Linked DNA regions of Homo sapiens: all the other regions are reported to be linked to region 1. The links are microRNA targets in miRTarBase. Many come from high-throughput screens and were not tested one by one. Region 1 holds a microRNA gene; each other region holds the end of a gene's coding sequence.
Evidence for each region. The annotated mature microRNA hsa-miR-548l reads AAAAGUAUUUGCGGGUUUUGUC and lies in region 1 at 1,279-1,300, opposite strand. An mRNA with a match to its seed (bases 2 to 7 or 8) in the 3' UTR can be bound and repressed. Matches are read on the target gene's strand: a 7mer-m8 pairs with bases 2 to 8, a 7mer-A1 pairs with bases 2 to 7 and ends in A, and an 8mer does both.

Region 1 (3,000 bases):
CTGGTTAGTTTTAATGCTGTGAGGCAGACACAGATGAGAAAATTGGGATCTTTTGCCATAATGAAGAGAACTATGTGATTCCCTTAAAGTAATTATTTTTGTATTACCCAGACCATCTCTCTCTCTCTCTTTTTTTTTTTTTTTTTTTTGAGATGGCGTCTCACTGTCACCCAGGCTGGAATGCAGAGGCACAATCTCAGCTCACTGCAACCTCTGCCTCCCGGGTTCAAGCGATTCTCACGCTTCAGCCTCCCAAGTAGTTGGGATTACAGGCATGCACCACCATACCTGGCTAATTTTTTTATTTTTAGTAGAGACAGGGTTTTGCCATGTTGCCCAGGCTGGTCTCGAACTCCTGACGTCAGATGATTCAGCCACTTCGGCCTCCCAAAGTGCTGGGATTACAGGCGTGAGCCACCATGCCCAGCCTTACCCAGATCATCTCTACAGCTACCATGTTATAAAAGACAAAATACTAAATGCTAAAGCTATTAGGTCTCTCCTTCAAACTTCTCATTTATAAATGTTTGGTCATAACAAATTTTATTGGATGTCCTCAATGTTCTAAGTATGCTGTTCAGGGCCAGGGATACAACCATAAATAAATACAATCTTGGCTGTCAAGAAATTCACAAACTGACTGGGAAGAAAAACATGTAAACAGATCACTGGAAGCAGACTGTGAGTGGTGCTATAAGAGGTATGTACAAAGTTGGATGAGGACACAAAGGAAGAAGCATGTTCTCTGTGGGCAGGTCAAGAAAGGCTTCTTTGAAGACAGAGGCTTTAGGTGGGTGCTGAAGAAGGTATAGAGAAAGGAGGAGAGAAGTATGTCCCACGCAACAGGATCAACATGGACAAAGGTTCCAGTGAAATAAACTCCACTGCACCCAGGGGACGGCAGCTTTTTTGGTTTAGACCACATCATGTAGACCCCTGAATGCTAACCTAAAAAAGTTTAGACTTTTTCCTGTTAGTGCTGGGGAATAATTAAGTTATTTTTAGCAGAAAAGACATGCAAAACTGTGTTTTACAAAGATCATTTTGGCATTAGTGTGGAGAGAGAAGGAAACTGGAGGCAGAGTCCTGGTAGGAGGCTGCAGCAATAGGCCAGGAAGTATTAATAAGGGCTTCACTATGCCAGCGACAGTGGGATAAAGAAACGGGAACAGATTACCTACTGTGCAACAGACACTATTTAATCCATTTAGATCTCATAAATCTACGAAGCATTTGGTTGGTGCACAAGTAACTGCAGTTTTTGCCATTACTTTCTACGACAAAACCCGCAAATACTTTTGCACCAACCTAATACAAACCAAGGGATAAGGGATGCGGTTGCTCAAGGTCATACAACTAGTGGTTGGGCCAGAATGAAGCTCAGGAAGTCTGGCTCTACACTGTACTCTTTACCTCCACAGTCTACATCCCAGTACTTCTCAAATTTTCATGAACATATACATTTCTTGGAGATTTTTGTTAAAATACAGTGGGTTCTGATGCAGGGTCTGAGGCTCTGCATTTTTAACAATTTCCCAGGCAACAACAACACTGCTGGTTTAAAGACTACACTCCTCAGTACCAGGCCTCAGGGGACTCCTGGAGATACAGAACAAGAAGGAGGTCTACGTAAAGATTTTGAAGTCATCACTCTATTGGTGGTCATTAAAGCTGTATGCCTACACTGAAAAGAGGGCTAACTATGAGACGGGACGGATACAAATAACTCAGAGAATGCCCAAGAGTAATTCAGCAAGATGAGACACGATCTATTGGATTGAACAATTAAAGGTCATCTTTTCCACTGGTTATGGTGAAGTCAGAGCCTTGGTTATAGTGAACTGAAGAAGAGAAAGTTAAGAGAGATATAGGTTATATACTTTTAGGGGCTTTTAAAGAGAGTAAGCAACATGGGGTAGGAGTTTGGAAAAGGGAAAAGCATAGTGGTAAAGAAGAAGTCTGTTGTTGTTTCTTTGTTTATAACACGATAGAAAGGATAAGCAGATTTATAGGCACAGGAAACAATCCTAATAATAACCAAAACAAATAAACCGTACATAGATTAGAAGGATGTGTTACGGGGAAAAAAATAAGAAGAAAAGAGGAAGCAGAAGAAGGTAAGTGAAATCAGGGCACTGGAGAGAAGGTAGGGGCTGCAATCTTGATGATAGGGCTGCAGTGAGGTGACACGGGAGCAGACTAAAGGGAGATAAGAGCACATCCCACATGCCCAAGAAACTGCGAGAAGGCCAAGATGCCTGGAATGAAGTGAGTAGAGGAGGTAGTTAAAGATGAAGCCAGAGAGCTCAGCCAATCTATTAAATATAACAACAAATTATTTAGAAAATGAGAAAAATAAGTTACCAAACCTATCACTTAAACTGTGATTAACTCAAATCCTTATATCTTTGTTTTTGCCTCCGATGGTGATTGCTCTTCTTATTACTATGAGCACTCTCCTCACTACTTTTCAAAGAAACCATGTAAACTGTACATTACTATGCTTTGAAAATTAATAATATTCAATCTATATAAATAGGACTTACTCGCAGTCGTACAAGAGGCTTCTCTGGCTGGTGAGAATTACCCAGACGTTCCCGTTCAGCATTTTCAAGCATTTCTTCAATCTCAAAATTTTTAAAAAGATTAAAAAACAACGTAGTAAACTGAGTTTAACTTGGCTGAATAGCAGCTTATTACCACAGGAATTTTCCTGAACTACATAATCATCTTTATTTCCTAGGTCATTTATGACACCTTTTCAAATATACCTTCTTGTAATGCTCCTTTAATACTATTCCTTAATGTTTTCCTTTCATGAAAGTTCTTCATAATTTTTCAATCTCTAAAATAATTCTTTTAGAATAAAACTTAAAATATTACTACTCATGTTTCAATAAGGCTTTCCTCAGCTTACCAACTTAAAACCAAGTAAGTCTAGTTTTTGCAGTCATATGATCCATGGGAGACTCACCAGAAGATTTAGGGATCAATAAGCAA
Region 2 (5,112 bases), not on the chromosome of region 1:
TATATACACATATATAATATATATTATATAAAATAGCATCACACTACTTCTAGTTGTATGCAATTATAATTTGTTAAAATCATTAAATTAACAAATATATAACTACATATTTATGTATGATTATCTTATTTTTGACAAAGCTGCCAGGAAAATTTAATGGGGAAAGAGTGGTCATTTCAGCAAATGGTGCTTGGACAACTGAATGAACTTAAATCCCTATCCCATATCATATACAAAAAGTAACTCAAAATAGATCACAGACGTAAGTGCTCAAGGTAAAACTATTAAATGAAAACAGAAAAGTAAATCTTTATGACCTTGGATTAGGCAATGTTTCCTTAGCAAAAACAAAATATAAGCAATAACAAAAAAAAAGATGAATTTGCCAAAATTTAAAACTTACATACTTCAAAGCATACCCTCAAGAAAATAAGACGACCCATATAATGGTAAAACATTTTCAAACCACATATATAATAACAGACTTGTAATCAGAATATATAAGGAAATGTTAAAATTGAGCAATAAAAATACAAATAACCCAATTTAAAGATGGACACAGGATCTGAAAAGACATTTCTCCAAAGAAGATATATAAATGGCTATAATCACATAAAAAGATGCTCAACATATTTAGCCATCAGAGAAATGTAAATCACAACTACAATGAGGAACCACTTTATAGCCATCAGAATGGCTGTAATCAAAAGTGTAAATAACAACAAGCACTGGCCAGAAATTGGGAAAATCAGAACAATACTCATACATTGTTGGTGGGAATGTAAAATAGTGAAGCCAACTTGGAAAAGTCTCACGTTCCTCAAATTGTTAAATACAGAACAATCATGTAACTCTTCTACATATATATCCAAGACACAAAAACAGGTATTCCAACAAAAAATTTGTACACCGATGTTCATAGCAGCATTATGCGTAACAGCCAAAAAGTGGAAACCACCCAAATGTCCATCAACTGATTAATGGGCAAACATAATGTGCTTTTATCCATACAATGGAATGTTATTCAATAAAACATGTGAAGTACTAATGCATGCTACAACATGGATGAAACTCAAAAATGTGGTAACTAGAAGACACAAACCACAAAAGACCACATATTGTATGACTTTAGTTATATAAAATGTCTAGAATAGGTAAATCCACAGAGACAGAAAGTAAGTTGGTGTTTGCATAGTGCTGAGGGAGTGGGGGATGGGGAGTGACTGCTATTGGGTAGAGTTTATTTGTTGGGTGATGAAACATTCTAAACTTAAATCTTAGTGATGGTTGCATGATTCTGTGAATATAGTAAAAGTCACTGCCTTATACACTTTAAATGAGCAAAGTTTACAGTATGTGAATTGTATATCTCAGTAAAGATGTTAAAAAGACAATTGTGTGAAAATAGGAATTATGGTAACATTATAGTACTCTTTACAAAGGATTTCAAAATTTTGTTTGCTAAATAAAGGAAGGTGATAATAGATACAGGGGAAGAATGATGGGTGGAAGCAGAAGACTAGAAGGTTCAAATTAATCAAATGTGCATGTTTCTTAATCAGTTTTGTTGGAATTCTTCAAAAGAAAAGAAATATGTATTTTACATTAAAAAGATTAGACCAATGTCAACCTTTCAATATTTTTCAGCATCCACAACTGGGTAATAAAATCCATGTGAATCCTCATTTTTCCTTTTGCTGAATGAATGGAATATGTGCAATGAAATCTGACTTCACCAACATTTTCTGTATTTAAACTTTCCCAAGCAAGTAATTAACAACTTCTGTTTTAAAATTCTGTTTACCCCTACACTCAGACTCCCAAAGAAATGTTGACATTTAACAATGCAATCGACGTCCAATTTGCATTGTTTGGTGAAAATGAAAATCTTCCTGAGAGTCAAATATTCCCAAGAACAAACCAGCTCAATAACTGAACATAACAAATAAACAAGTCTGATTTACAAACAGAAACAATCTGAATGTAATATAACAAGTGGCAAAGATTATATTTTCCGGCCAAATATTTTGGAGATTTTTTTAAATAAAACTCACCTTCATATTCAGAATTTCACTTGCATTTTTGTATCTACAAAACATATTTCTCAGCTGACAAAATAAAATATTTCAGTTTAGGAAGACTCAATTCAACCTTTTACTTTAATATACTATGTTAATTTTAAGTTATATAAACATGGCAAAAAATACATCTATTTTTAAAGAATGCCCATTTTGGCAGTGTTAACTTATTTGACATTAAAATAAAAGTGAAAATGACCACATAAAATATTGCAAGTATCATCAGCAACATTTAATAAAGCTTAGGAGAAAATATTGACTAAAAAACTTTTTTTGCGTTTCCAGTGTATTACAAAGCACCCTGTTTTCTCTAGAGTTCTTTATGCCGTATTTTTGTAAACCCAATAAAATTGTTCATTTGACCTCATGTGTATTGTGAGATTAAAAGCCCTAAAAAGAAAACATAGAAAACGAAAACCTTGAATTGCATTCAAAGCTTTTTCTTTCTACTATTTTCTCTTTTTGCATTCCCAACCCTCTAAAAAAAGATATTACTCATCTAAAATTACTATTATATAAACTCCAAGAACACATAAGTTATGTTTCTAAAAGTACTGAGTTTATTTTAAAGCATAGCATCAAGTTTGAATCTCATGAAACAAAGGCATCTCTTCATTATATGTTGATTTTGGCAAAAAGTAAAGACCAGCATACAATAGATATACATGATAATGTAGTTTAAAGTAAGAGGTGTTTGCTTTTGGTAATAAGGTAGTGTGAAACTTACTATGTAAATCTATGTTGGTTATTTAGGCCATGTTTCTTGTCTTTTTAGAAGTCTTCAGGCTTAATATTTTAAAAGTTGCCCTTTTTATTTGATACTTCTACTTTTTGCTGGAATAGAGGCATAGAAAAGATTCTCACTGCTTAGACTAATACACTCATACAATACATGGCTAAACTGAAATAAAAAGGTAAGATATCTTAGGAATAGTAGCATTTACGATTGTGAGTTGTTTTAAACGGGCAAAACTACTAAGATTTGTTTTAGCAAAAACTCAAGGGAAACCAATCTTGGGAAATGATCGCCAACCTGTTTTATAAGAGTTATTTAAAAGTCTAATCTCTTTGCTAGAGAATGCCATTTTAAGCTTACTTGGCATCCCACTTTCATGATATACATATGCATATTTCACTGAGGCAAGGAACTTGGATATATCATTCCATCATAGCTGTGTAGTTAAACAAGGAACTTGTCCACTGAATGAATCTATTGCTTTTGTGCGTGTAAAAGGATATCTATTCTGATCACTGAAATGTGCAATGAAAGGCTACATTTAGAAGCTCAGAAAATCTGTGGTTCAATATGTAGAAGTTTCATCTACAAAAGAATGGGAATGTTATAATTACGATAGGAAATTACAACGTTTAACATATCATAAACATTACCTGCAAGAACTTTTTAATCGCAGTAATATAGCATCAAAAAGGTACATATTCTTGTTCATGAAAATTAATGAGGCAACTTAGGAATGAGAGACAGGTTATTTCTCTTTCTCCTTTTTAATGTAGAGCTGCAGATACACTTAAGTTGCCATAGTAATGGCAGAAGGAGGGAAGGGTGTTTTCTTTGTAAAATCATTGGTGTATACAGGATGGCTTGGCAGGTAACAACACTATTTCTACGATATCTACTTATTAATATAATTTTATGTTAATATCCCATTCTCCTCACCATAATCACCATAATGTTCAAATTTTAATTTTGTATTCATTTTGAATGTTTGCATGTGAAAACCCAACTAATCTATTATTTCAACATTAAGCCTATTTCTTTTGAAGCAAAGCTAATTCTGCTATTTTATAAAAGCAATGGAGACTCATTTTTCAGGATGCTTAAAGCACAGTGCTTAAGGTTCATGCTTGCTGCTTTGCTTGCACTTCTGCTTCCTGAAATGAAAAACAAACAAAACAGATAAGTTTAAACATCACAGAGCAGACACCCATGTGTATTTTAGTCAGACTACATTAGTTCCAACTACTAAGAATAAACAAAAGCCCCCAGAAGAGATTTCTTAAAAAGTTCTTAATAGAAAAACTATATAATACAAACAGATTTCTAGAAACAGATACACAAAAAGACTACCTAATCATTCCTAATGATTTGGAATACTTTCATGAAAGCAAGTGATATACAATTATAATTGATATTTTACTTAAAAATAGTCAGTTTCCTTTTTGTGTGATTTTTTTTCATGAAAATTGAGAATATAAAAACATGGTTACTTAAGTTTAAAATTAGTTGGGTTTTGGTTAATTAAGGTTTAAATTACTTAGAAAATGTGCTATCCATTAAAATATTGTAGTTTTCATGTTTTATGATAGAATACACACCAAAAAATCAGGTTGTCTTCCTTCTCCTCTGGATAGTGAGGTACTCACCTCTAGCATAGGAACTCTGACCTACTTGACACAAAATAAACTTCAAGGAAAGTTTGTTGAACTAAAGATGAGTGGCAAGATTGACTCCAGAAAAGGAAACATCAGACTTAAGTTGTAGAAATCAAGCGTGGTAGACAACATCATTCTAAACACCTGTCACTAAATCAATACTTGACAGTCTCAGGAGGACTGATACTGTCCAAATGAGTCCCAGTATTACATGCAAAAGAAGGGAGAAAAGCTAAAAGAGACACTAGATTTTTACCCAAAAAAGGCAAAAGTAGAGGAAAGAAGAAAATATTAAATGACACCAAAATTCATTCTTCATATCCTTTAAAAAAATAACGAAATATACTACTGACTCATTGATATGGTTTGGCTCTGTGTCCCCACCGAAATCCCATGTCAAATTGCAATTCCCAGTGTTGGAGGAGCAGCCTGCTGGGAGGATATTTGATCATGAGGGCAGTTTCTAATGGCTTAGCACCATCCTCCTACTGCTGCTTGTCTAAAAGTGTGTAGCACCTCTCCCTCTCTCTCCTGCCACCAGGCGAGGACGTGCTTCCTTCCCCTTCACCCTTTGCCATGATTGTAAGTTTCCTGAGGCCTCCTCAGCCATGGCTCCTGTACAGTCTTTGGAGGTGTGGGTCAA
Region 3 (3,000 bases), not on the chromosome of region 1:
CCAAAAGATATTTGGCATAGGAAAATCAAGTGTATCCTTTTTTGCTCAAAGAATTTCATTAAGATGGAATTGACATTCAAACCAGATGAGAGCATCTAGATTAGAAATACTTCTGTGCCATAAAAAAACTCATTCTAATTGTCTTTGATTTCTTTTTTTTTTTTTTCTAGTGTCAGATAGTGCCCCTCATCTTGAGGGCCTAGCAGAATTTCAAGAGAATGTAAGGAAGACCAACAATTTTTCAGCTTTTCTTGCCAATGTTCGGAAAGCTTTTACTGCCACGGTTTATAATTAACATACAAATAGTGTATATAAAAACGGTTTATTTTTCTTCTCTATTACATATCTCTTTTTTTCTTGTTTTTATTATTATTATACTTTAAGTTTTAGGGTACATGTGCACAATGTGCAGGTTTGTTACATATGTATACATGTGCCATATTGGTGTGCTGCACCCATTAACTCGTCATTTCATTAGGTATATCTCCTAATGCTATCCCTCCCCCCTCCCCCAACCCACAACAGTCCCCGTTGTGTGATGTTCCCCTTCCTGTGTCCATGTGTTCTCATTGTTCAATTCCCACCTAGGAGTGAGAATATGTGGTGTTTGGTTTTTTGTCCTTTCGATAGTTTGCTGAGAATGATGGTTTCCAGCTTCATCCATGTTCCTACAAAGGACATGAACTCATCCTTTTTTATGGCTGCATAGTATTCCATGGTGTATATGTGCCACATTTTCTTAATCCAGTCTATCATTGTTGGACATTTGGGTTGGTTCCAAGTCTTTGCTATTGTGAATAGTGCCGAAATAAACATACGTGTGCATGTGTCTTTATAGCAGCATGATTTATAATCCCTTGGGTATATACCCAATAATGGGAGGGCTGGGTCAAATGGTATTTCTAGTTCTAGGTCCCTGAGGAATCGCCACACCAACTTCCACAATGGTTGAACTAGTTTACAGTCCCACCAACAGTGTAAAAGTGTTCCTATTTCTCCACATCCTCTCCAGCACCTGTTGTTTTCTGACTTTTTAATGATTGCCATTCTAACTGGTGTGAGATGGTATCTCATTGTGGTTTTGATTTGCATTTCTCTGATGGCCAGTGATGATGAGCATTTTTTCATGTGATTTTGGCTGCATAAATGTCTTCTTTTGACAAGTGTCTGTTCATATCCTTCGCCCACTTTTTGATGGGGTTGTTTGTTTTTTTCTTGTAAATTTGTTTGAGTTCATTGTAGATTCTGGATATTAGCCCTTTGTCAGATGAGTAGGTTGCAAAAATTTTCTCCCATTCTGTAGGTTGCCTGTTCACTCTGATGGTGGTTTCTTTTGCTGTGCAGAAGCTCTTTAGTTTAATTAGATCCCATTTGTCAATTTCGGCTTTTGTTGACATTGCTTTTGGTGTTTTAGACATGAAATCCTTGCCCATGCCTATGTCCTGAATGGTATTGCCTAGGTTTTCTTCTAGGGTTTTTATGGTTTTAGGTCTAACATGTAAGTCTTTAATCCATCTTGAATTAATTTTTGTATAAGGTGTAAGGAAGGGATCCAGTTTCAGCTTTCTACATATGGCTAGCCAGTTTTCCCAGCACCATTTATTAAATAGGGAATCCTTTCCCCATTGCTTGTTTTTGTCAGGTTTGTCAAAGATCAGATGGTTGTAGATATGTGGGATTATTTCTGAGGGCTCTGTTCTGTTCCATTGGTCTATATCTCTGTTTTGGTACCAGTACCATGCTGTTTTGGTTACTGTAGCCTTGTAGGATAGTTTGAAGTCAGGTAGCGTGATGCCTCTGGCTTTGTTCTTTTGGCTTAGGATTGACTTGGCAATGCGGGCTCTTTTTTGGTTCCATATGAACTTTAAAGTAGTTTTTTCCAATTCTGTGAAGAAAGTCATTGGTAGCTTGATGGGGATGGCATTGAATCTATAAATTACCTTGGGCAACATGGCCATTTTCATGATATTGATTCTTCCTACCCAGGAGCATGGAATGTTCTTCCATTTCTTTGTGTCCTCTTTTATTTCACTGAGCAGTGGTTGTAGTTCTCCTTGAAGAGGTCCTTCACATCCCTTGTAAGTTGGATTCCTAGGTATTTTATTCTCTTTGAAGCAATTGTGAATGGGAGTTCACTCATGATTTGGCTCTCTGTTTGTCTGTTATTGGTGTATAAAAATGCTTGTGATTTTTGCACATTGATTTTGCATCCTGAGAGTTTGCTGAAGTTGCTTATCAGCTTAAGGAGATTTTGGGCTGAGACGATGGGGTTTTCTAGATATACAATCATGTCATCTGCAAACAGGGACAATTTGAGTTCCTCTTTTCCTAATTGAATGCCCTTTATTTCCTTCTTCTGCCTGATTGCCCTGGCCAGAACTTCCAACACTATGTTGAATAGGAGTGGTAGGAGAGGGCATCCCTGTCTTGTGCCGGTTTTCAAAGGGAATGCTTCCAGTTTTTGTCCATTCCATATGATATTGGCTGTGGGTTTGTCATAGATAGCTCTTATTATTTTGAGATACATCCCATCAATACCTAATTTATTGAGAGTTTTTAGCATGAAGGGTTGTTGAATTTTGTCAAAGGCCTTTTCCGCATCTATTGAGATAATTATGTGGTTTTTGTCTTTGGTTCTGTTTATATGCTGGATTACGTTTATTGATTTTCGTATGTTGAACCAGCCTTGCATCCCAGGGATGAAACCCACTTGATCATGGTGGATAAGCTTTTTGATGTGCTGCTGGATTCAGTTTGCCAGTATTTTATTGAGGATTTTTGCATCAATGTTCATCAAGGATATTGGTCTAAAATTCTCTTTTTTTGTTGTGTCTCTGCCAGGCTTTGGTATCAGGATGATGCTGGCCTCATAGAATGAGTTAGGGAGGATTCCCTCTTTTTCTATTGACTGGAATAGTTTCAGAAGGAATGGTACCAGCTCCTCCTTGTACCTCTGGTAGAATTCAGCTGTGAATCCATCTGGTCCTGGACTTTTTTTGG
Region 4 (5,112 bases), not on the chromosome of region 1:
TACACACTTTTTTTTTTTGGAGACAGGGTCTCTGACCCCCAGGCTGGCGTGCGGTGGTGTGATCACAATTTACTGCAGCCACCAACTCATGAGCTCAAGTGATTTCCCCCCTTAGCCTCCTGGGTAGCTGGAATACATGTGCAAGCCACTAGGCCCAGCTAATTATTTTTTGTAGAAATGGCATATTGCTATGTTGCCCCAGGCTGGTCTCAAACTCCTGGGCTCAAGTGATCCTCCCACCTCAACCTCCCAAAGTAGTGGGATCACAGGTGTGAGCCACCACCCGGGTCATACATACTCTCTTTGGGATATAAGAGGGGATGCAGGGATTTTTTTCCCTATTTATTGAGGGCTTTAATACTGTTTTTAATATTTTTAAATATTTCTGTTCTTTGTATTTCCTAGCACCAAATCAGATGAAAGCCAAGGAAGGGAGGAATGTGTACAGTTCTTCACGCTATGATGATTATGACAGATACAGACGTTCTAGAAGCCGAAGTTATGAAAGGAGGAGATCAAGAAGTCGGTCTTTTGATTACAACTATAGAAGATCGTATAGTCCTAGAAAGTAAGTGTGCTGTGTAGCACAGTGATCTGTTTAAAAAATGTATTTGTTAGCATTTAATTTTTTTTTACTATTTTGTATACTTTTAATTATATACATTGAATGTTTCATTGAGACAAAAAATACTGTAGCATTTTATTTTAAAAGTTTTATGGTTTGCTTTTAATTAGAAACTTTGCCTCTATGAATAGATATTTGTCACTGCTTTTTCTGATATGCTTTTTAGCAGTAGACCGACTGGAAGACCACGGCGTAGCAGAAGCCATTCCGACAATGATAGGTAAATAACTTTGCTTTGAAAAAGACTCATGTATTTTTTAATTTCAGAGTGAACTTTTGCTCTAAAAATAACAAATTTGATTAATATAGAATCTAATTTTTACTCTAATTATATCTCTCCTCTGTTTTGAAAGATTCAAACACCGAAATCGATCTTTTTCAAGATCTAAATCCAATTCAAGATCACGGTCCAAGTCCCAGCCCAAGAAAGAAATGAAGGCTAAATCACGTTCTAGGTCTGCATCTCACACCAAAACTAGAGGCACCTCTAAAACAGATTCCAAAACACATTATAAGTCTGGCTCAAGATATGAAAAGGAATCAAGGAAAAAAGAACCACCTAGATCCAAATCTCAGTCAAGATCACAGTCTAGGTCTAGGTCAAAATCTAGATCAAGGTCTTGGACTAGTCCTAAGTCCAGTGGCCACTGATAGTATAAACCATGGTCATTTTTAGGCATGTATCATTCATTTACTCATAGTTTGGTTTACTTAAATTATCAGGAATACAATGTTGCAATGATGCTTAAAAAACACTTGTTAGTTTTCCCTGTACCAGGCAATGGTTATAATTAAAATGATATGCTGTTGAGAAGCCACTCTTAAGAGTCCAGTTTGTTTAATGTTATGGGCAGCTACCAATTTGTGGTGTCTCTGTATATTTTTGTAAAGATTCTCATTTTTTATGCTTGAAGTATTTGGTGAAAAGATGTTGGTTGACCATAATTTGCAACATTGTCTCATTAAAAATAAACTTTCATATTCATATTTGGTAGAACTGTTAACCTAGAAATGTAGCTTGCTAATAAGATAGAATGATACAAAAGTGAAGTAGTAGCCACAGTACAACACTGACTGCTCAGACACATTTAGGTTCAGGGTGGACCTTTATGTCTTGTCAAGATGTCTAGGCCCGGCTGGGCGTGGTGGCTCACACCTGTAATCCCAGCACTTTGGGAGGCCGAGGCGGGCGGATCACGAGGTCAGGAGTTCGAGACCAGCCTGACCAACACGGTGAAACCCCGTCTCTACTAAAAATACAAAAATTATCCGGGCATGGTGGCACATGCCTGTAATCTCAGCTACTCAGGAGGCTGAGGCAAGAGAATCGCTTGAACCTGGGAGGTAGAAGTTGCAGTGAGCCAAAATCACGCCACTGCACTCCAGCCTGGGCAACAGAGTGAGACTCCGTCTCAAAAAAAAAAAAAAACCGGATGTCTAGGCCAATGATAATTATTTTTGATGCAGTGTGGATTAGTTCTTTTGTTAACCCCACTGTCTTGGGGAATGATGCCAGCTGGGAAATTGAGTTTTTGACTGAAACATGGAGCCTTCACTGCTTTTTTTCTGGTTCCTATGAAGATTTGGAACATAGAAAACACAAAAACTCACCTTAAAATTTGAGCAGGTCGTTGATGGCAAAAATAATTTTAAGGAAAAAGGAATATTCTTATGTAGTTATTCTAAAGTTTAAGGAGCGTTGTTGACCATAATATTGCTTAGTTTTCTTACTGCTGTTAAGTAAGTAAATTGTTTCAAAGTAGGTTTTGTGTGTGTGTGCCTAGTGTAAAAGAACTGAAATTTTGATGCTTACAGCACTTGGCTCGTGCATTTGTATCAAAATTTGCCTGCCTCTTTATGAGGGAGGCCTGCTTTTCACACCTCAGTTTATTTAATACGAGGCAAGTTGTAAGACAACACTCATTCTAGGTGATTCTGTGGTGCCATGAAATTTAAGGTAATTTGGGGAAAAGGATTAGTCAGTTTTAAGCAAGAGTCACATCTTTTGAGCTTTCGATTATCAGTGTAGTACCTGACTAAAAATGAAGTAATACCCTTAAACCATTTATAATTTCTAGTATTTCTCTGAAAGATCGTTTTGGGGACAAAAGTGACTTGACATGTCCAATTTCATTTCAGAATAAAAAGCTAGCATCTTTAAAAATCTCAGATTGCTTGCTTACAGATACAAGTACGAATTATGGACAAACGATTCCTTTTAGAGGATTACTTTTTTCAATTTCGGTTTTAGTAATCTAGGCTTTGCCTGTAAAGAATACAACGATGGATTTTAAATACTGTTTGTGGAATGTGTTTAAAGGATTGATTCTAGAACCTTTGTATATTTGATAGTATTTCTAACTTTCATTTCTTTACTGTTTGCAGTTAATGTTCATGTTCTGCTATGCAATCGTTTATATGCACGTTTCTTTAATTTTTTTAGATTTTCCTGGATGTATAGTTTAAACAACAAAAAGTCTATTTAAAACTGTAGCAGTAGTTTACAGTTCTAGCAAAGAGGAAAGTTGTGGGGTTAAACTTTGTATTTTCTTTCTTATAGAGGCTTCTAAAAAGGTATTTTTATATGTTCTTTTTAACAAATATTGTGTACAACCTTTAAAACATCAATGTTTGGATCAAAACAAGACCCAGCTTATTTTCTGCTTGCTGTAAATTAAGCAAACATGCTATAATAAAAACAAAATGAAGGAAATAATGATTAACTGGAATTATTACAGTATTGAATATGATTCTAAAATAACAATGGAAACAGTCCTTTATAGATTTAGGAATATTTTAAATCATTGTTGCACTAGGCACAACTAACTTTTACTTTGGAAATGATAGAACTTGCCAGAAAGGTACATCTTTTACACAGTAGTTAAAAATTCATTGTGTAATATCAAAGTTGTTTCATGATTGCTCATTAAGCCTCTTGGGTTAACTAACTTAAGAGGTTATTTGGTAGTGTTAAGATGAAATTTGGATCAGCTAATTCCAAGTTTATATTTTCATTATTGGATGGATCAGTAATTCTGCTCTCCCTCTTATAAACAAGACGCATTAGGGCTTAACGTTTATGACATGATTTTAAATCATTTTAAATTGAATGTTGATGAGCAACTAATATTAAGTGATAACCTCTTTGGGGAAGTAGGTTAGGTATTTTGTGGTTTGAATTCTATCTACTTTATGACAATTATAGCTAATTTATTAAGTATTCATGATGTGCCAGACACTTGAAAAGGCTATGTGTTAACTCACTCTTCACAAAACCTTATGAGAAAGATACTTTTATTTTCCCCATATCACAGATAAGGAAACTGAGGCACAAAGAAAAGACTGTAAGGCAGAGCCAGGATTTAAGCCCAGGCCTGGTCCCTTAGTTTTGGGGGGGTTTTGTTTGTTTTACAGACTATAATTTGAGAGAAGTAGATTGAGGAGATAGCTCATTGAAATTGTTCATTTTCTGTATAGAACTAGAAGGCCTAATTTCATTTTTATTTTTACTTGTGTCAACTTATTTTTAGACTTGGACTATTGAGAATCTTATATGTTGTTCCTAAAGCGACACACCTAACAGCTTCAAAAGGACTATATTACAGTTGAACCCATGGTAGTTTGGATCCTACTGATACTTGATGAGGATCTTTACGTAGTGTTTTATGTTAGTTTTGGGTGATGTAGTTGAGTCCCCCACTTACTGAGTTTACCTACTGTGTATGACTGGGCTCAATGATAAATAGAATGGTTATATCAACACTCAAATGAGGGCTGACACACTTCACCTCTCCTTTTACTTAAGATCTCTCTGCATTTTTTTTTTTTTTTTGAAGCCAAGTAAGCAAGAAGAAAAATGAGAGATAATGCTTCAGTGAGAGAGGAAAGGTGCTACATAGAGTATGAGCTGTTAAGTTACATCCCAGGGGAAAGACCTGGGAACTATTGTATTATTCTCTTGAAAATTTGGCCCAGTAAGCTGCTACATCCAGTTCAACTAACAAAATCCTGTATACCACAGAGAAGAATAAAGGAAACCAAACTGACAAACATCCTTCTTTTATTTAAGACCAAACTGCAGCTGGAATACCCAGTACAGTTCTGCTTACTACACTTCAAGAAAGATCTGAAAGCGGAAAAAGAACCAAAGAAGGGCAGTTCAAGCGACCAAAGGGTGGGTGGAAGGTGCTGCAGTATGAATACTGTACGAATATTTTGACTCTGGTCTGAAAAGATAAAAGAATGTTATCGAAAACTACATGGAATAATTGAAGTCCCTTCAAGTTTGAAAGTAAGCATTTTAGGACAAATAAAAGGAAATTCAACTTTGTACTTGTGGAAACTAATCCCTAAATATGAATAGGTTTATATTGATTCATGGGTAACAGGTCCATAATAAATTATTGGAAACTAGGATGTCTGAATATCAAGGAAGACAGCCATAGTCTCTTACAGTGCCTCTGTTGGTCTGTCTCAAACTGAATTGG
Region 5 (5,112 bases), not on the chromosome of region 1:
GGGATGAGGATGACACCAAGGCAGACAGCTGGAAGGAACTGAGCCTGCTCAAGGCCACACCACACCTGCAGCCCCGGCCTCCACCTGCTGCCCTTAGCCAGCCAGTGTTGCCCTTGGCCCCCTCGTCGTCTGCCCCAGGTGAGTGGCACTCCTTCCCCTCTTTTGGTGTCACATTCAAGAGACGCAGCCCAGGCTTTGCCCTGACTGACTGTGTGACCCTGCGCGAGTCCCTGCTTCTCTCTCGGTTGTGGGCTCCTCAGATATTTAATGGGGGTGGTGTTTCTTTGCCCTGTTCCTGGAGCAAGGTGGTAGCGTTGTGATGGTGGGGAGCTTTAGATGGGGAAACTGAGGTCCAGAGGGGCGTGACATACCTACCTACTCTGCATGAAGCTGTTGTCGCCAGGGTGTTGGACTCTGGGGCAATGAGAACTCGTCACCAAGAGCTCACTATATGTGAGGATCTGAACTGAGTGCCTTCTCAGGTGCCACTGCAGGTGAGAAAAGTGAGGCCCTGGGACATCACACAGCTAGTTCTCGGTGGCGTTTTCTTAACTAATCACAGGCTGTTCCGACATGTTCCCCGCCCCTTCACTCTGCAGAAGGGCCTGCAGAAACTGATCCTGAGGTGACACCACAGCTCAGCTCCCCAGCACCGCTGTGTCTGACACTGCAGGAGAGGCTGCTGGCCTTCGAGCGGGACCGTGTGACCATCCCAGCAGCCCAGGTGGCTTTGGCCAAACAGCTGGCTGGCGACATCGCCCTGGAGCTGCAGGCCTACTTTCGGAGCAAGTTCCCGGAACTGCCCTTTGGGGCATTCGTGCCTGGGGGGCCGCTCTACGACGGGCTGCAGGCGGGGGCTGCGGACCATGTGCGTCTCCTGGTGCCACTGGTGCTGGAGCCGGGCCTGTGGAGCCTGGTGCCGGGCGTGGACACTGTGGCGAGGGACCCTCGCTGCTGGGCCGTGCGCAGGACGCAGCTTGAGTTCTGCCCCCGTGGGAGCAGCCCCTGGGACCGCTTCCTGGTCGGGGGCTACCTCTCCTCCCGCGTCCTGCTGGAGCTACTCCGCAAGGCGCTGGCTGCTTCTGTCAACTGGCCGGCCATTGGCAGCCTTCTCGGGTGCCTGATCCGGCCCAGCATGGCCTCGGAGGAGCTGCTGCTCGAGGTGCAGCACGAACGCCTGGAGCTCACTGTGGCTGTGCTTGTGGCAGTCCCTGGGGTCGATGCTGACGACCGCCTCCTCTTGGCCTGGCCCCTGGAGGGGCTGGCGGGGAACCTCTGGCTGCAGGACCTGTATCCAGTGGAGGCTGCTAGGCTGCGAGCCCTGGACGACCATGACGCTGGGACTCGCCGGCGGCTGCTGCTGCTGCTGTGTGCTGTCTGCCGTGGTTGCTCGGCTCTGGGGCAGCTAGGCCGGGGTCACCTGACCCAGGTGGTCCTGCGTCTGGGGGAGGACAACGTGGATTGGACGGAGGAGGCCTTGGGTGAGCGCTTCCTGCAAGCCCTGGAGCTGCTCATCGGCAGCCTGGAGCAGGCCAGCCTGCCCTGCCACTTCAACCCCAGCGTGAACCTCTTCAGCAGCTTGCGTGAGGAGGAGATTGACGACATTGGCTATGCGCTATACAGTGGCCTACAGGAGCCCGAGGGGCTGCTCTAGGTGGGTGGAAACGGGTGGTTGCCATGTTTTCTAATGCTGGGGAGCTGCACCCACCTCCCTTCCAGGGATTTGAATAGTGGTTTTTCTCTAGCTTTTTGCCAGAACAAAGGAGGGTACATTACTTAAACCCAGGGCATCAGGATGTGCTTGGGCTATGGTGGCCATAAACCCTGAGCCCAGAGAGCTTGGGTCACTGTCACCTGAGTGCAGCTGGGCTGCCTCAGGCAGCTTGGAGTGCCAGCCATTCCTGCAAGCACCGTTTCAGCTCTTGGGGCCAACCCCAGGACCTTTGGCTCTGTCCATCACCAGCAACCAATCCACCAACAGAATGTGGTTTCTGCCATCCTGGGCAGAAGCTGAAGGCCAGCTTCACATTTCTGCTGAGAGAAGGTGACTTAACGCCTTTTCCGGCCCTAGCTCCAGGCGTTTTGAGGCGTCTGGTGCCTGATGGTAGGTATGGTGTGTTTGTTCTGTCCCCCAGGGGCTGGAGTCACCTGGTGCCCCTGAAGGACAGATTTTTGGCTGTTAAAGGATGGCATTTTCCTGCTGTCTTCTGTGCGTTTAGTTTTCTTGCTGAGCGGGAGCTCAGTATGACTTGCCACCCACCTGATACCTCAGGGCAAGGCCCTTTTTCCCTCCAGCCAGGTGAGTGTTTTCTTCAGGCAGCTGAGGGTCCTGGGGGAGCTGAGGCTCTGTGCTGCACCCCCAGCCCACAGCTGGGGCATCTCACTGGAGCTGTTCCAGGCCCCACTGGAGAGCAGAGGACCTGATCCCCCACTAGAGAGGTCCGGTGTGCACAGCCGGCCTCCCAGTGTGCCAAAATGAACTGCTCTCAGCTGATGGCTGTATTCTGACTTTGAAGCCTGTTAAGAGGTAGCAAGGGGGCTAGAGGAGGGAGATTCCACCTCCCCTCCCAAGTGACCCTCCTCCTGCCTCTGGTATCCTTCCTTTTGAAACGAAGCTCAGCTTCGAAGATGTGAACAAGAATAAAAGGAAAAAATTCTAATGTATATATAACTCAGGCTGGATAAGGGAGTCTTGGTGCTTTCATACGCAGCTGTTGAGGGTTTTCTGTAAGTCCTGTGGCTTGTCCTGGCACTTTGGCAAGAGTGCTTGAGGTCAATTGGAGGTGGTAGAGTTTACTTTAAAAAGTAGCATCTTGGCCGGGTGTGGTGGCTCGCATCTGTAATCCCAGCACATCGGGAGGCCGAGGCGGGCGGATCACGAGGTCAAGAGATCGAGACCATCCTGACCAACATGATGAAACCCCAACTCTACTAAAAAGACAAAAATTAGCTGGGCGTGGTGGCACGCACCTATAGTCCCAGCTACTCGGGAGGCCGAGGCAGGAGAATTGCTTGAACCCGGGAGGTAGAGGTTGCAATGAGCTGAAATTGCACCACTGCACTCCAGACTGGCGACAGAGCAAGACTCTGTCTCAAAAAAATAAATAAATAAGCATCTTGGCCCCGCGCTGTGGCTCACGCCTATAATCCCAGCACTTTGGGAAGCCGAGGCCGGTAGATCACCTGAGGTTGGGAATTCAAGACCAGGCTGACCAACGTGGAGAAACTCCATCTCTGGTAAAAATTCAAAAAAATTAGCTGGGCATGGTGGCACATGCCTGTAATCCCAGCTACTTGGGAGGCTGAGGCAGGAGAATTGCTTGAACCCGGGAGGCGGAGGTTGTGGTGAGCTGAGATCGTGCCAGTGCACTCCAGCCTAGGCAACAAGAGTGAAACTCTGTCTCAAAATAAAATAAAATAAAATAATAATAGTAATAATAAATTAGCATCTCAGTCTGTTTGGGCTGTGATAACAAAATGCCATAGACTAGGTGGCTTATAAACATCAGAAATTTATGTCTTACCATTTTGGAGGCTAGAAATCCAAGAGTGAGTCACAGATTCCATGTTTGGTTGAGAGCCCACATCCTGGTTCATAGGTGTCCCCATCTAGCTGTCCTCATGTGGAGGAAGGGGGGAAATGCTCTCCTAGGGTCTCTTATAAGGAAACTAAGCCCACCCATGGGGTGGGGGCCCACATTCATGATCGAATCACTTCCCAAAGACCCCATCTCCTGTTAGCAGTGCCTTGGGGGTTAGGATTTCAGCATACAAGTTGAAGGGGACACAGACTTTCTGTCCGTGACAAGTAAGGTAAGTGGAAGGAAAAGATGAAAAGCTTGGTGTTGCTTTAGTAATGGGAACCAGCCAGTTTGGGATGTTTCTTCCCGCAAGGCTGAACTGCTGAGCCCTGCACCATACTTTCTGTAATTAGTGGGCTGTTGACAGCCCTTCAGCCATGCTCATCATTTTTTAGAAACCTGTGTTTTTTTTCTTTTGAGAGTGAGTATCACTCTGTCGCCCAGGCTGGAGTGCAGTGGTGCGATCTCGGCTCACTGCAACCTCTGCCTCCCGGGTTAAAGCAATTCTTCTGCCTCAGCCTCCCGAGTAGCTGGGACTACAAGTGCGCGCTACCACGCTCGGCTAATTTTTGTATTTTTAGTAGAGATGGATTTTCACCATGTTGGCCAGGATGGTCTTGATCTCTTGACCTTGTGATCTGCCTGCCTTGGCCTCCCAAAGTGCTGGGATTACAGGCATGGGCCACCGCACCCGGCCAGAAATGTGTGTTCTCTACCTCCCTTGCACCTCTTTGTGGCTGCACAAGTGGGGAGGAAACTTGCCCCGCCTTGTGCAGGTGAGAGGCCAGGGCATCTTAACCCTCTCACCCGCAAGAGCCAAAGCCAGGGCTCACTTCCTATCACCAGATGACACATGTGGGCTGGGGAGGGCTCTGGTCTGCGTGCAGGGCTGCTTCCAGCCTAGCTGTGCCACTCGCACCCTGCTGGTCCTTCCCCGACTTACGTCCTGAGGGGACTCCCCTACCCCTTCCAGCTGTGACTGCAGGACCCAAGGGAAGCAGGACTGTGCCAAGCAAATGGAATAGTGGTGTAGGCCTCTAGGTGTTGGGTGTAGGGCAAGAGGCGGGCACGAGGGCTCCTTGTAGAGGATATTATAAGGGTCCAAGGTGGGAGACACTTGGCTGAGGTCCATTCCAATCACTTGGCTGAGGTCCATTCCAATCACTTGATGCCTTGATGCTGGAGAGCTTTGAGCAGTTTCCTTGGCGGTGTTGGGGCAGCAAGGGAACAGTCTGGGGCAGAGCCTGTGCCTCAGTCTTCTCATCTCTTAACTGGGGAGGGTCATGTAATACCCAACCCCAGGTGCTTGTGACGATTAACTGGGGTGGGCAGTGCTTAACATAATGCCTGGGAACGAGGACTGGTGGGCCTAGCTGTGCCCCACCCTCCAGCCACATCCAAGCCCCAGCACAGCAAGGTGCTCCCAGATGCCACTCCAGCCCCTGGTCAGAGCGCAGCTGTCCAGGAAGCAAGCTCAGTCTAGAGTGCCACTCCTTCGACGACCAGACCCCAACACAAGCCTGATGTAGAA
Region 6 (5,112 bases), not on the chromosome of region 1:
TCAGCCTCCCAAAGTGCTGGGATTACAGGCGTGAGCCACTGCGCCCGGCCATTTCTTCAAATTGTTTTTTATACCTCCCTTCTCCACGGACTCCAATTATACACGTATTTGGCTCCCAAAGTTGTCCCATAGTTCTCTAATGCCCAATTTCTCCTACCTTCTTCAGTCTTTTTCCTGTTTAAGTTGCTGTCTTCCAATTCTTTCATATCTTTTTCTGAGATGTCCAATCTGCTGTTAATCCCATTCAGCGTTTTTCATCAGATATTGCAGTTTTCATCTCTAGAGGTTCAACTTGGTGTTTTGTATCTTCCATGTTTTTCTCTCTAGCTTTCTGAACATATGGAATACAGTCATAATACCTGCTTTAATGTCCTTGTCTACTGATTGTCATTGTGCCATTCCTGGGTCAGTTTTGATGGACTAATTTTTCACTTCATTATGAGCTTATGTTCATGCTTCTTTGCATGCCTAGTATTTTTGTTTTTGTTTTTGTTTTTTTTGAGATGGAGTTTCGCTCTTGTTGCCCAGGCTGGAGTGCAATGGCATGTTCTTGGCTCACCACAACCTCCACCTCCCTGGTTCAAGCGATTCTCCTGCCTCAGCCTCCCAAGTAGCTGGGATTACAGGCATGTGTCACCACGCCTGGCTAATTTTTTTGTATTTTTAGTAGAGATGGGGTTTCTCCATGTGGGTCAAGCTGGTCTCAAACTCCTGACCTCAGGTGATCCGCCTGCCTCGGGCCTCCCAAAGTGCTGGGATTACAGGCGTGAGCCACCGCGCCTGGCTGCCTAGTGATTTATTAGATGCCAAGTATTGTATATTTTACTTTATTGGGTATATTTTTTGTATTCCTATATTCTTGAGCTTTGTTCTGGAACACAATTAAGTTACTTTGAAACAGTTGTGTTCCAGTTTGGTCTTGTTTTTAAGCTTTCTGAGTTGGGACCAGGGGTAGTTTTTATGTAGAGTTAATTTTTCTACTACTAGGGCATCTTAGTTCTCTTCCAATGCCACCTAGATTACAAGGTTTTCCACTGTGACTGTTGATAACAGGCACTATTTTCCACTCCAAACACTGTTCCCTCTAATTCTTTTGGGTGAGTTTCCTCACCGGCATGCACTATTAGTGTGTAACTAAATATCTGATGGAAACTCTCTGCAGATCTTAGTTCTCCTGCTGTGCAACTCTCTCCTCCAAGGCATTCTCCCCTGTGAACTCTAGTCATTTCGACTGCCCAACTGCACCTCAACTCCAGGAGACCGCCAGGTCCTGATGGGGTAACCCTTCCTAGAACCACGGACTCTCCGCAGATAGTAAGTACAGATAATTTTGTTTCCCCTCTCCAAAGGATCATTGTCTTTTATTGCTTAAAGTTCATTGTCTTTATATTTGTTAGGTACTTAAGAAGGAAAACTAACAGGACAGATAAGTTTTAGGAAATAACTACCTTACTCTAGCAAAATACCACACACAAAAAAAGGGGACCCACCCACACCAGACAACGTCACAGGCTGAAAACTTTCACCATCCAGCCTAACATGGCCTGCTCCCTATCCCACGGTGCCATTAGGGTGCTCCTCCTACTTCCAGCAGAAAGGCCTCAGCAGAGGTCCCGAGGACAGCGACAGGAGGAAACCTGGATCTCCATCCTCACCAGGCAGTAACGAGGCAGTGCCCCATCCCATACCAGCACCGTCAGAGGAAGCATGCTGAGAGATTTAAATAACTCCCAGAGCTTCATAACAGTGAAGATGACCAGGATACAGCCAAAGTCACTCATCATAACAAGAACTAGGACATTGTAAACTTGAATGAGAAAAAACCTCAAGGGATGTCAACACTAAGATGACACAGATGTTGAAACTTTATGACAATTTTTTTTTTTTTTTTGGAGACAAGGTCTCACTCTGCCACCCAGGCTGGAGTGGCATGAACAAGGCTCACTGCAGCCTCAACCTCCTGCAATCAAATGATCCTCCCACTTCAGCCTCCTATGTAGCTGGGACTACAGGCATACACCACCATGTGTGTCTAACTTTTAAATTTACTTTTACTTTTTGTAGAGATGAGGTCTCACTTTGTTGCCTAGGCTGATCTCAAACTCCTGGGCTGAAGCAATCCTCCTGCCTCACCTTCACAAAGTGCTGGGGTTATAGGCGTGAGCCACCACACCTACCTGATGACAAAGATTTTAAAGCAGCCACCATAAAAATGCTTCAGTGAGCAATTATAAACACTCTTGAAGCCATTTAAAGAAAAAAAAAGTCTCAGCAAATAGCCTCAGCAAATAAAGAGAAGACATAAAAAATAAACCAAATGGAAATTTTAACTGAAATATACAATGACAGTCAAAGTTAAAGTACTGCATGGATGGTTCAAGAGCAGAATGGAAAGGAAAGAGTAAATAACCAGTTATTCTGAAGATAAAACAATAGAAATTACCTAAACTGAGCAACACAGAGAAAACAGACTGGAAAAAAAATAAACAGCGCCTCAGGGACTCACGGGACAATAGTAAAAGATTCAACATTTTGGTCATCAGTGTCCCAGAAAGAGGATGTGGGTGGGGCAGAAAGAGTATGCAAAGAAATAAAAATATATATATTCCACAGAATGGGTAAAAACTTCTGTAAAGCATGTATGATAGGGGGGCTTATATCTAGAAACTATAAGGAACTCAATAATAATAAAAAATAACTTTTTAAATGGGCAAAGGCTCTGAATAGACATTTCTCCAAAAAACATATACAAATGGCCAATCAGCACATGAAAAGATGTTCAACATCATCAGCCATCAGGGAAATACAAGTCAAAATTGCAATGGTATACAATTAATATACCATTTAACATTCCCAATAGTAGCCTACAACTTCCATTTCCACTGTGGAAAACGGTTTGGAAGTTCCTCACGGTAGTCAAGTTACTTAACTGCTCTGTAAAATGAAGTTAATCACATTCACTTTGGATGAATGAGTTCATATATATTAGCTATAATTACTACAGCAATTATCATTGTGTACATTATTACTGATTGGGTCAAATTATTAACCCCGTCTCCCTAATTCATTTACTTTTGTTACTTTGGATGAATATTTAAAGTAGTCTTGAACTGAGATATGTATGTAAAGGTTCTATCACATTGGCATATAACATGTGCTCAACAAATGAAAGCTATAATTATTTATTTCCAAAGAGTTTAAAGATTAAACTTCCCTCAAAACAAACAAAAGGCAAGGTAACATCCCAAGCTGTGAGGGGCTGAGTCTCTCCTAGGTGCAGGGCAGCACAGGAACTGGCTGCACAAGGCCAGAGAGGTTACGTGGCGGCTCTCTTCAAATTAGACCACACAGAGCGCTTCATTCCCTGTGCAGTCTTCACATCTTCCCAGTCCAGTTTGACGTCTGGAACCTCATCTTCTGGCTCTGGATCCTTCCTCAAGGGCCCCCGGGGGGACGCAACCACAATGGGCAGAGGGCCACATTCCTCCCGGATTTCCACAACATGGAGGCCCTTCTTATCAGCCAGCTGTTGATGGGTTTCCTAAGCAAGACCAAATTCAGAACAGGTTAGGTCTGAAGTACATTTGCAACATAAAGAGCAGGAACTTCCACAGGCCACAACAGTACAGCCTGGGGGTATTCAAAGGCCATTTCAGTGGATTTGGGTTAATGTGTTTTGTGGCTAAACTCTAATAACCTGTCATGGGTGGAGTCATTTCAGCCTCATCTGCTGCATCTGCCCACCCCAAACTTGGATAGAGGAAGGGCCTTGGCCTCTGGTCTCTTGCCTTCTAAACCCTCCTGATTATGCACCATGCTGTGCCAAACACTGAACTTGAATCTCACCAACCCCCTAGATCTAACTACCAATTTACAGTAAATATAGGGGAGATAAGACACTAAGGACCCTACAGGTATTTTAGTCAGCAACAGGCCAGGAAGCACTACAAAACAAACAACCTGGTTTCCTCAACAAAAAATCATAAGCGGGGCGGGGGTGGGGGAAGAGGAGGGGAACCTATTTAAAAGGCATAGCAAAAACATACATTAACCTGTTCTGCAACCTGATTCAAACACATTGTGTAAAAAAAAAAAAAATTTTTTTTAATCTAACAAATGGAATTTGCTCATTTGTATGAACATTGATTGGATATTTGATGATACAAGTTACTGTTAACTTTTTAGGTATGATAATAGTATTACAGGGTATTTTTTAAAATCCTCATCTTTTCGAAGATACATACTAAAATATTTAGGGTTGAAATAAAATGTCTGAGATTTGGTTCAAAATAACTGGGGGTGTACTAAGAAGCAAGACTGGTCATGAGCTGGGTAACAGGGCCATGGGGATTCACTGCAGAGGGAAGCCACAGAGATCTGGAAGCAGGCAGATTAGTTCAGTAGACGTTATTCATGGTACAATGACATACCTGCTATGTCAATCCCGTGATCCCAGGCCTTATGGCTGCCTTGCACTATTCTAATTATATATCTAATGCCCTGCAGTATGTGTGAAATTAGAAAACAGATGAGCCATTTCATAAACAAAATAATTTATATTGGTGTATCTTTCAATCAAAGGCATATCACCTAAAGTGGTGGCATCTTTTCCTTTTTGAGTGACATATTAAATAATGCAACCTTTTATAGCTGATGGCATTTTAGGAGAGATGACATATGGTAACTATATCAGAAGGTTTAAAAGACTAAAAGAAAACAAAGATATCACATAAAAGAACAAGTCTAGGCTGGGCGCGGTGGCTCACGCCTGTAATCCCAGCACTTTGGGAGGCCAAGGCGGGTGGATCACGAGGTCAGGAGTTCAAGACCAGCCTGACCAACATGGTGAAACCCCATCTCTATTAAAAATACAAAAATTAGCCGGGCATGGTGGCACGTGCCTGTAGTCCCAGCTACTCAGGAGGCTGAGGCAGGAGAATCGCTTGAACCCGTGAGGCGGAGGTTGCAGTGAGCTGAGATGGAGCCACTGCACTCCAAGCCTTGGTGACAGAGCAAGACTCTGTCTCAAAAAGCAAAAACAAACAAACCAAAAACCAAAAACAGAACAAGTCTACTGGATCATAAATACAACCTATCTAAAATCAACATCTT

Region 2: the mRNA of SH3BGRL is a reported target of hsa-miR-548l. Seed matches in the 3' UTR shown: 7mer-A1 at 2,758-2,764.
Region 3: the mRNA of SPC25 is a reported target of hsa-miR-548l. Seed matches in the 3' UTR shown: 8mer at 375-382.
Region 4: the mRNA of SRSF10 is a reported target of hsa-miR-548l. Seed matches in the 3' UTR shown: 7mer-A1 at 3,812-3,818 and 7mer-m8 at 3,914-3,920.
Region 5: the mRNA of MIEF2 is a reported target of hsa-miR-548l. Seed matches in the 3' UTR shown: 7mer-A1 at 2,795-2,801.
Region 6: miRTarBase lists MRPS5 as a target of hsa-miR-548l. Seed matches in the 3' UTR shown: 7mer-A1 at 3,096-3,102 and 7mer-A1 at 2,357-2,363.

The regions. Positions count from the first base shown.
Region 1 is chr11:94,465,267-94,468,266 of GRCh38, forward strand. MIR548L (microRNA 548l) reads right to left here and starts at 1,314; the gene lies at 1,229-1,314. It overlaps MRE11 (MRE11 double strand break repair nuclease), which reads right to left. Exons shown (of 20, transcript NM_005591.4): 10 at 2,547-2,627.
Region 2 is chrX:81,296,051-81,301,162 of GRCh38, reverse strand. It overlaps SH3BGRL (SH3 domain binding glutamate rich protein like), which reads right to left. Exons shown (of 4, transcript NM_003022.3): 4 at 2,616-3,968. The coding sequence ends at 3,936. Among named protein-coding and RNA genes, the nearest start is that of SH3BGRL, 97 kb to the right of the region's middle.
Region 3 is chr2:168,868,726-168,871,725 of GRCh38, reverse strand. SPC25 (SPC25 component of NDC80 kinetochore complex) reads left to right here. Exons shown (of 7, transcript NM_020675.4): 7 at 171-835. The coding sequence ends at 295. Among named protein-coding and RNA genes, the nearest start is that of SPC25, 20 kb to the left of the region's middle.
Region 4 is chr1:23,967,306-23,972,417 of GRCh38, reverse strand. It overlaps SRSF10 (serine and arginine rich splicing factor 10), which reads left to right. Exons shown (of 6, transcript NM_054016.4): 4 at 406-568; 5 at 792-845; 6 at 979-5,112. The coding sequence ends at 1,276. Among named protein-coding and RNA genes, the nearest start is that of PNRC2, 10 kb to the right of the region's middle.
Region 5 is chr17:18,263,111-18,268,222 of GRCh38, forward strand. MIEF2 (mitochondrial elongation factor 2) reads left to right here. Exons shown (of 4, transcript NM_139162.4): 3 at 1-138; 4 at 600-3,442. The coding sequence ends at 1,654. Among named protein-coding and RNA genes, the nearest start is that of MIEF2, 5.0 kb to the left of the region's middle. RefSeq lists an enhancer at 4,193-4,786.
Region 6 is chr2:95,084,041-95,089,152 of GRCh38, forward strand. MRPS5 (mitochondrial ribosomal protein S5) reads right to left here. Exons shown (of 12, transcript NM_031902.5): 12 at 1,329-3,541. The coding sequence ends at 3,317. Among named protein-coding and RNA genes, the nearest start is that of MRPS5, 35 kb to the right of the region's middle. RefSeq lists an enhancer at 3,413-3,978.